3 linked regions of the Homo sapiens genome follow. The protein of the gene in region 1 purifies or fractionates together with the protein of each later gene. This does not show direct contact. Each region holds a gene or a part of one and is shown on either strand. Other genes may lie near its edges. The genes, in order: PTPN18, TANGO6 and SDF4.

Region 1 (3,654 bases):
TAACTCTTCTGCACAGCAGGGGACCTACCCAAAATAGCCAAAACAATCTTGGAAAAAAGAACAAATTTGGAAGACTCATACTTCCTGATTTCAGAACTTCTACAAAGGTATAATAATCAAAACTATGTTACACTGGCACAAGGATAAACACATCAATCAGCTTAATAAAATTGAGAGTTCAGAAATAAACCCTTATATTTATGGCCAATTAATTTTCAACAAAGGGGCCAAGACGGTTCAATGGGCAAAGCATAGTCTTTTCAACAAATGGTGCTGGAACAACTGGATAGTCACATGCAAAAGAGTGAATGTGGACCCCTATCTCACATCACATACAAAAGTTCATTCAAAGTAAATCTGAGACCTAACTGTAAGCAAGAAAACTATAAAACACTTAGAAGGAAGAACAGGAGTAAGTCTTTATGACCTCTGATTAGACAATGACTTCTCAGATACACCAAAAGCACAGCAACACAATAGATTGGAATTAAAGTTTCACAAAATGTTTGTGCTTCAAAACACACCATCAAGAAAGTGGAATGACAACCCACAGAATGGGAAAGACATTTTAAATCATGTACTGATAAGGGACTTATATACAGAATAACGCTTACAACTCAATAATAAAAAGACAACCCCAAATAGCCCAATTTTAAAATGAATAAATGACATGAATAGACATTTGGCCAGAGAAGATATACAAATGGACGAATAAGCACATGAAAACCAAAACCACAATGAGGTACCACTTCCCACTCATTAGGATGGCATATATGTCATTGTCATATGCCACATAATGATGTTTTGGTTAACAACAGACCACATATACAATGGTGGTGCCATAGATTATAATGGAGCATATGTAGAAACCTGATACATGGCACTTGATATTGACACTGCATATTAAGTTGGGGAAATGATTGATACTCAGTAATGGTGCTGGGACATTTGGTTTTCCATATGAAAAATATATAAATAAAAAATGTATATACTATCTATGTTTGTGTAAGTATACTCTATGATGTTTACACAATGACAAGATAGTCTTAACAATGCAGACCATATCCCTGTCATTAAACTACACATGTCCCTCCCTCCCTCTCTCTCTCTCTGCTGATGGGAACGTAAAATGGTACAGCCACTGTGGAAAACAAAATGTTGAACATAGCGTTATCATATGATCCAGCAATTCCATGCTAGGTGTATACCCAGGGAACTGAAAACAGGGATTCAAACAGATACTAGTATACCAATTTTTTGTTGTTGTTGTTGTTGTTGTTTTGAGACGGAGTCTCGCTCTGTCGCCCAGGCTGGAGTGCGGTGGTGCGATCTCGGCTCACTGCAAGCTCCGCCTCATGGGTTCACACCATTCTCTTGCCTCAGCCTCCCGAGTAGCTGGGACTACAGGCGGCTGCCACCACGCCTGGCTAATTTTTTGTATTTTTAGTAGAGGTGGGATTTCATCGTGTTAGCCAGGCTGGTCTCGATCTCCTGACCTCGTGATCTGCCTGCTTCGGCCTCCCAAAGTGCTGGGATTACAGGCGTGAGCCACTGTGTCCAGCCTGTATACCAATGTTTGTAGCCGCCTTATTTACAATAGTCAAAAGGTACAAACAACCCAGATGTCCAACAGGCGAATGGATAAACAAAATGTGATATATACATACAATGAAATATTATTTGGCCTTGAAAACAGTGAAATTCTGATACACACTGCAACATGGATGAACCTTGAAAAAAGGACAAGTATTGTATATTAGTGTATTCCTGATTCCACTTGCATGAGGTACCTAGAATAGGCAAATTCATAGGGACAGAAAGGAGAATAGAGGTTACCTGGAAATGGGGGAATGGGGAGTTATTGTTTAATGAATACAGAATTTCTGTTTGGGATGATGAACATGTTCTGAAAATAGACAGTAGGAATGGTTAATCCATTGTGAATGTACTTAATTCAATTGAATTGTACACTTGAAATGGTTTAAATGGCAAAATTATTTTTAACATTCCTCACAGCACCTATAAACTGGCAAATTTTATGTTATGTATATTTTACCACATAATTTAAAGAAAGACACAATGGCATACCACTTCACAACCCCTAGGATGGCTATAATTAAAAAAAAAAAAAAGACAGTAACAAGCATCAGGGAGAAGAAATGGGGACCCTCAAACATTGCCGTGGAAATGTAAAATGATGCTGCCACTGTGGAAAACAGTTTGGCACTTCCTCAAAATGTTAAAAATAGAGTTTCCATATAGCCCAGCAATTCCCAGCAATACCCAAGAGACATGAAAACCCACATCTACACAGAGACTTGTATATCAGTGTTGATAGCAGCACTGTTCATAATAGCCAAAAAGTAGAAAGAACCCAATTTCTGTCAACCAATAAGTAAAATGTGGTAGATCCATTCAATGGAATAGTATTCAGCAAACAAAACAAAACAAAACAAAAATGCTAAGCAAAAAAAGGCTACATATTATGTGATTCAATTATATGAAATGTCCAAAGTAAGCAAATGTATAAAGGCAAAAATAGATTAGGGATTGTCTGGGGCTGTAGAGGTTGCTGGGAAATGGGGAGTGACTGCTAATGGATATAGGATTTCTTTTCTTTTTCTTTTTTTTTGAGAGACAGTCTTGCTCTGTGGCCAGGCTGCAGTGTAGTGGCACAATCTCAGCTCACTGCAACCTCCAACTCCCTGGTTCAAGCTATTCTTCTGCCTCAGCCTCCCGAGTTGCTGGGATTACAGGCACATGCCACCATGCCCAGCTAATGTTTGTATTTTTAGTAGAGACGGGGTTTCACTATGTTGGCCAGGATGGTCTTGATCTCCTGACCTCGTGATCCACCAGTCTCAGCCTCCCAAAGTGCTGGGATTACAGGCATGAGCCACCATGTCTGGCCTGGATTTTTTTATGGAATGATGAAAATGTTCAAAAACTTATTGTGGTAGGCCGGGCACGGTGGCTCATGCCTGTAATCCCAGCACTTTGGGAGGCTGAGGTGGGCGGATCACGAGGTCAGGAGATTGAGACCATCCTGGCTAACACGGTGAAACCCCGTCTCTACTAAAAATACAAAAAATTAGCCGGGCGTGGTGGCAGGCGCCTGTAGTCCTAGCTACTCGGGAGGCTGAGGCAGGAGAATGGCGTGGACCCGGGAGGCGGAGGTTGCAGCGAGCTGAGATCGCGCCATTGCACTCCAGCCTGGAGGACAGAGCGAGGCTCCGTCTCAAAAACAAAAACAAAAACAAAAACAAAAATCTTACTGTGGTAATAGTTGCATAGCTCAGGAATATAGAAAAATGATGGAACTGTACACTTTAAATGACTGAATTGTATATCAATAAAGCTGTTTAAAAAGATATTCTAAAACAACTATAATAGCAGTGTACTGTGGAGTATATTTTATATATAGAACTATAATATATAGTAACAATAGCACAAAGCATGGAAAGGGGTAATCGAAATATACTACAGTAAAGTTCTGACATTTTACATGAAATGTAGAATATTATTTGACTATAGACTATAAGTTAAAGATATATATTGTAAACCCTAAAGCCACAACTAAATATTTAAAATAAAGATGTATAGCTAATAAGGGAATAATTACTATGCAATAGATTAATAAAAAATTCTCACTCT
Region 2 (3,654 bases), on another chromosome or scaffold:
AAAATTATATAACATTTTATTCTCCATGGAAGCTTTGTCTGAATAATGTCATATGCCTTACTACTAAGAAAGGTGCATGAGTGTTACAGCTCTATTAGAATTTGTCTAGCAGGTTTTCTGGTCTTCACTGGAAAGCACCCCCCTCACCCACTGCCACCCAAAAGGTGTATGTGTGATCAATGAAAAGTAAGAATCAATGGTAATACTTTTCTGTTTGAAAACACTGGAGAAATTATCAGATGAGGCTTCAGGAGACCCTGAAAATTTGAATACCTTAAGGATCTTAAGTCCTTTTTACTGGCCAACATGGCGAAACCCCACCTCTACTAAAAATACAAAAATCAGCTGGGCATGGTGGCATGTGCCTGTAGTCCCAGCTACTCGGAAGGCTGAGGCAGGAGAATCGCTTAAACCCGGGAGGCAGAGGTTGCAGTGAGCTGAGATCACGCCACTGCCCTCCAGCTTGGGCAACAGAGCGAGACTCTGTCTCAAAAAAAAGAAAAAAAAATCCTTTTTATTTTTATTTTTTTCTTTTCTTTTTGGAAACGGAGTCTCGCTCTGCTGCCTAGGCTGGAGTGCAATGGCGTAATCTCGGCTCACTGCAACCTCCACCTCCCGGGTTCACGCCATTCTCCTGCCTCAGCCTCCCGAGTAGCTGGGACTACAGGCACACGCCACCATGCCTGGCTAATTTTTTATAGTTTAGTAGAAACGGGGTTTCACCATGTTGGCCAGGCTGGTCTTGAACTCCGGACCTCAGGTGATCCGCCCACCTTGGCCTTCCAAAGTGCTGGAATTACAGGCATGAGCCACGGTGCCCGGCCGAGACATTTTCAAATAATTATACTAGTATTATCATTATGCTAAACTTCATTCAGTGCCTCGGTTGTATCATGGACTTTTTTAAAGCATCTAAAATGAGAATAATTTACCTACAGTCTATTTGGCCTCTTTTTTAATTTCTCTTCTATATAACAATTTCTTCTAAAAAAAAAAACCAGCCAAGACAAATAGATCAATGGGACAGAACAGAAAGGCCAGAAATAGACCCAGATAAATAGAGTCAACTGAACTTTGACAAAGGAGCAAAGGCTTTAAATGGAAAAAAAAATACAGTTTCTTTTTTCTTTTTTTTTTTTTTAATTGGAACAAGTGTCAGTAGAAAAGACAGTTTTTTCAACAAATGGTGCTGGAACAACTGGCATGCACATGTGAAAAAATGAATCTAGACACAGACCTTGCACCTTGCACAAAAATTAACTTGAAATGGATCATAAACCTAACTGTCAAATACAAAACTATAAAACTCCTACAAGTTAACATAGTAGAAAATTGAGATGACCTCTTAAAAGCAATGACCTTTTAAATACAACAGCAAAGGCATGATCTATGAAAGAAATAGTTAAAAACCTGGACCTTATTAAAATTAAGAATGTCTGCTCTGCAAAAGAAACTGTCAAGAGAATGAGAAGACAAACTACAGAATGAGAGAAAATATTTGTAAAAGACATATCTGAAAAAGGACTAATATCCAAAATATACAAAGAACTCTTTAAACTCAATAAGAAAATGAACAACCTGACTTAAAAATGGGCAAAAGACCTTAACAGATAGGTCTACCAAAGAAGAATACCCTACCAAAGAAGATATACAGATGGCAAATAAGCATAGGAAGACATACTCAATGTCATAAGTCATTAGGGAATTGCAATTTTTTCTTTTTTTTGAGACAGAGTCTTGCTCTATTGCTCAGGCTGGAGTGCAATGGCACAATCTTGGCTCACTGCAACCTCCACCTCCCAGGTTCAAGCGATTCCCCCACCTCAGCCTCTTGAGTAGCTGGGACTCCAGGTGCGGCCACCATGCCTGGCTAATTTTTGTATTTTTAGTAGAGTCAGGGTTTTGCCATGTTGCCGGGGCTGGCCTCAAACTCCTGACCTCATGTGATCCGCCCACCTCAGCCTCCCAAAATGCTGGGATTACAGGCGTGAGCCACCACACCAGGCTTCCCACCCACCCCTCTTTGCATCCACAGAGTTCTCAATCCTGGGCATGGCAGAAGCACCTTGATCCCTCCCTGATCAAGGGTGTGACCTGGGATCCCTGGCCTCGGGCTGGACAACCAGGTGCCCACAACCTGTATGGGGGTATTTACTCATTGAACATCTAGCCCCTGGGGTTGTCCAGGGAAATGCACTGGGTGGCAGCAGCTATGTGAGGAGTTTGTTTCTGTTTTCTTTTTTTTGAGACGGAATTTTGCTCTTGTCACCCAGGCTGGAGTGCAATGGCATGATCTCAGCTCACTGCATCCTCCGCCTCCCACGTTCAAGCGATCCTCCTGCCTCAGCCTTTCAAGTAGCTGGGATGACAGGTGCCCGCCACCATACCCGGCTAATTTTTTTATATTTTTAGTAGAGATGGGGTTTTGCCATTTTGGCCAGGCTGGTCTCGAACTCCTGACCTCAGGTGATCTTCCCACCTCAGCCTCCCAAAGTGCTGGGATTACAGGCATGAGCCACCGTGCCCAGCTGAGGAGCCTTTTTTTTTTGAGAGGGAGTTTCACTCTTGTTGCCCAGGCTGGAGTGCAATGGTGTGATCTCAGCTCACTGCAACTTCTGCCTCTTGGGTTCAAGCAATTCTCCTGCCTCAGCCTCCCGAGTAGCTGATCTGGTCTGGAACTCCTGACCTCAGGTGATCCTCCTGCCTCGGCCTCCCAAAGCACTGGGATTATAGGCGTGAGCCACTGGCACCTGGCCAAAGCTCTGAAAATCTTTAACGATGTGTATAAATGAGCACAATGAAGACAATTCCAGAAATAGATGGTTTAATCTCAAAAGCAAAAGAATTAGAGAGAACTAGTCAGCTTAGTTAACTGGAAAGTCATTTTCTTTTTAAGTTGTAAAATTGGAGGCACTGTGGTTTGCAAGTAAGGGCTTTTTTAGCCAGTTTGATCACCTGCATACAAGCAGTTGAAGGATGCCTCTCCACTCTAGGGAAATTCTGATAAAAGACTGGATTACCTAGAGGATAATCAAGTGAAAGCCTGTGAAAACAAGAAGCATGGCTCTCCTTTGCCCCTGATAACACATGACTAACATTCACAACACTCCCATGGGTGTGCCCAGATCTGGAGGTTGCTCACTATGGGTGAGGGCAGTGTTTTTCAACTTTTTGAGCTCATGCCCTTTTGAAAAAACAAAACAAAACAAAACAAAACAAAACAAAACAAAACAAATCATGCCTCCTTCATTAGACATCACCTTTCCTTTCTTCCTTTTATTCTTTCTTCCTTCCATTTATCCATCCATTCAAAAACTGTTAATTAAGTACCTACTGTGGCAGGTTTATTAAATATGGCAGAAAGTAAGACATCTCTAAATGAGGCTGCTTGAAAGCAACAGCAATTAAGAAGGATTGTCTGCTCTTTGGAGTTCTATATAACAGCTTGAAATAATGGGAATTTTCCCAAGCAGTTCTATAGAGCACCCAAATTGGGCTCGGTGAAGAAGAGAAAGGACAGCATTGTAGCACAGGAACTGACTCAACCAATTCGCCTCACCAGCATGCAACAGATTTCAGCGGCTCGTCCCTCTCTCCCCTTCCTCCATTCTGCAATAGACCTCTAGCTTGCTTACCACTACTTCTACCCCAGCC
Region 3 (2,939 bases), on another chromosome or scaffold:
TTTTTTGTGCCTGCTTAACTTATCAGTAACACACATTTCCTCACCAGAGTCTCAAGGCAAACCACCTCTTCTTTCTTTTTTCATGAGACGGTCTCACTCTGCTACCCAGCCTGCAGTGCAGTGGTGCAGTCTCGGCTCCCTGCAGCTGTACCTTCCAGGGCTCAGGCGATCCTCCTACCTCAGAAGCTGGGACCACAGGCACCATCACCGCGCCTGGCTAATTTTTGTATTTTTTGTACGGATAGATTCTGCCGTGTTGGCCGGGTTGGTCTCAAACTCTTGGACTTAAGTCATCCGCCTACTGCAGTCTCCCAAAGTGCTGGGATTATAGGCGTGAGCCACTGCGCCTAGTCTTAGCCTCTTTCTTTTTTTAATTTTTAATTTTTAATTGTTTAAGAGTGAGGGCCTCACTGTTGCCCAGGCTGGAGTGCAGTGGTGCGATCTCAGCTCACCTGTAGCCTCCACATCCTGGGCTCAATCTATCCTCCTTGGAGGACAGAAAAATAAAGGTGTAAGATACGTTCCTGCCAGGAACGGCCCATATCATGTGACCAGCCCCCATGGGGGCGGCCTCCTGAGTGACTGGGACCACCAGTGTGTGCCACCATGCCCAGCTGATTCAAAAACATATATTTTGTAGACACAAGGTCTCCCCATGTTGCCTAGGTAGGTCTCAAACTCTTGGATTTCAGAGGGTTCAAGTGACCCGCTCGGCCTCCCCCCGTCCTGGGGTTGCAGGCGCGAGTGACCCGCCTGCCTTGGCCTCTCCCCATCCTGGGGTTGCAGGCATGAGCCCCTGTGCCTGGCCTTGACCTTCTAGAATGACGCGGAGACTTTTGAGCCTGTTGGCTCTGCCTGCTCTTTTCCCAGTTCACGTACTCTTATCTGGAGTTTGGTCCTGTCCGTTCTAAATCCTGCAAATTGGACATTAAAAAAACTAAAAGTAAGAGGATCTCCCTGTGTTGCCCAGGCTGGTCTCAAAGTCCTGGGCTAAAGGGATCTGCCTGCCGCAGCCTCCCAGCATGCCGGGATTACAGGCACAAGCCCCAGTGCCCGGCCAAATTGGACGTTATTACTTCCTTTCCAAAAGAGTGGTTTACATTTTCCTCCCCACACACGGTTCGTGCCTCCACCCCGGTCCCGCGTTCCCTGCTGTCCTGACTGCGTCTTTAAGCTTCATCCCGTTGGTCCGGCCTGTTGGCGATGTGCTTGGGGCAGGAGGCCTTGCCCGTGCCCGCCCCCCAACTCTGATTGTGTCTGTCTTTCCTTGGTGCCACTTTATTTGGGTCTTTTCTGCCCAGGACATGGCCCACCTGGACCTAGAGCTCTGTGACATTTCTGTGAAGCCTCCGTCTACCTTTGGGACTCAGCAGAGGTGTGTTTAGAATTCACTCTGCGTTTTGGGGGTCCCCATGCATGCTGAGGTGCTGTTCCCTGCCCACCCGTGTCCGATCCGTCTTGGCCTCCCCGACCTCAGGGTGCCTAGGACCCCCCGACCTCTTTGGGTATTTGGTTTCTGGCTCAGGAAGAGCAGCTGCCGGGTCCTGGAGGAGGGGCCTGGGAAGCGCTGGCAGGCGTCACTCCTGCGACCTCCCACCCCTCCCTGCATGGCTCCTGCGAGGGTCACCGCGTGAGTCCGGGGGCTGCTGTCCTCGCGCCTCAGACCTGATTCTGGGGACCGCGGTGAAGGCGTGGCAGGCGGGCATCACTCCCTTCCCCCGCCTCCATCGCTGCCTCTCTCTGGGTCTGCGTCCTCTTCTCACAGGGACAGCAGTCGTTGACTCTCCCTGATCCAGGAGGGTCTCTCCAGATCCTTCCCTAACAGCAGAGGCCCGGCTCGTGGGGAGGGACTGGGACTCAAGGCTTCTTCACCAGCCTGAGGTTGGTGCTGGGGCTCGGCGGCGGCTGTGAGAATCCTGTGCTGGAGAAAGCGTCTCTCGGCCGGCCTGTCTGGGGCGTCTGTGCCTCTCCTGGATGGGTCTCAGTTTGGCCCCGTCCATCCATCCCAGGAGCTGCGGTGGAGCAGACAGGGAGGGGTGCCCCAGGAACCACAGCCCCGTCACTCCTGTCTTCCTTTAAGTGAACCGGTCGTGTAGATGGAGGTTGTTCAGAAAGGGATAAGATGGGACGGCAGCTGGGCCTCATCCCGCAGTGAGCGCGACGCAGAGGCTGCCGGGCTTGTGGCAGGGGCTTCGGCCAGGGCAGAGTCGGGCCTCACGTGCAGGGGGCTGAGTGTGGGCCTCAACACTGGACTTGGCCACTGACTGCAGTGAGCCCCAAGATGGGGCAGGAGGTGGTGTTTCTGTCCTGGAGACCCAGGGTGGCTTGGGTCCTTGGGATGTGTGGGGACCTCGGGGTGAGGGCCCGTTGGGGCCGGGTGGGCACGGCAGGAGAGCGGGGGCCACACACCCAGAGGCAGTGCCGTGTCCCGGCTGGGAGGGTTCCTGGGAAGCTCTGCTCAGCCCCAGTCTCAGTCATTTCTAGAAACTGTGTTTTCCTCCCTGTGACGTCACACGTGAAGGAAACGGAAAAGGGCAGTGAGTCCTTCGCCCCGCGGCGCCGTGCGCACGTCAGCCTTCAGGGTGATTCCGCTCCTCCAGAGGGGCAGGCGCGGGTGTGGGGGGTGGGGCCCAGGCCCATCCTGAGGGGTCCCAGGCATGAGGGGCTCTGAGCTGTGTCCTGGGGTGGTCTGGGCCATGGGGAGGTTCTGGATCATGTCTTGAGAGGTCTGGGCTGTGTGGGGGGTCCAGGCCATGTCCTGGGGGTCTGGGCTGTGTCTGTGGGGAGTCAGGGCCATCCATGTATTGGGGGTCTGGGGCAGGGGGGGGTCCAGGCTGTCTTGGGGAGTCCGGGCTGTGTGGAGGGGTCCAAGCTATGCCTTTGGGGATCAGGCCTGTGGGAGGCTCTGGGTTATGTCTTGGCGGGGGTCCAGGCTGTGT

Evidence for each region.
Region 2: the proteins of PTPN18 (region 1) and TANGO6 purify together in Homo sapiens (affinity purification with mass spectrometry; one large-scale study listed by BioGRID and IntAct). This does not show direct contact.
Region 3: the proteins of PTPN18 (region 1) and SDF4 purify together in Homo sapiens (affinity purification with mass spectrometry; one large-scale study listed by BioGRID and IntAct). This does not show direct contact.

The regions. Positions count from the first base shown.
Region 1 is NC_000002.12:130,362,424-130,366,077, reverse strand, and holds part of PTPN18 (tyrosine-protein phosphatase non-receptor type 18), read right to left. Parts: intron 1-3,654. UniProt on the Homo sapiens protein: Differentially dephosphorylate autophosphorylated tyrosine kinases which are known to be overexpressed in tumor tissues.
Region 2 is NC_000016.10:68,923,382-68,927,035, reverse strand, and holds part of TANGO6 (transport and Golgi organization protein 6 homolog), read right to left. Parts: intron 1-3,654.
Region 3 is NC_000001.11:1,219,093-1,222,031, reverse strand, and holds part of SDF4 (45 kDa calcium-binding protein isoform 2 precursor), read left to right. Parts: intron 1-1,301; coding exon of another isoform or gene 1,302-1,333; exon of another isoform or gene 1,334-2,939. UniProt on the Homo sapiens protein: May regulate calcium-dependent activities in the endoplasmic reticulum lumen or post-ER compartment. Isoform 5 may be involved in the exocytosis of zymogens by pancreatic acini.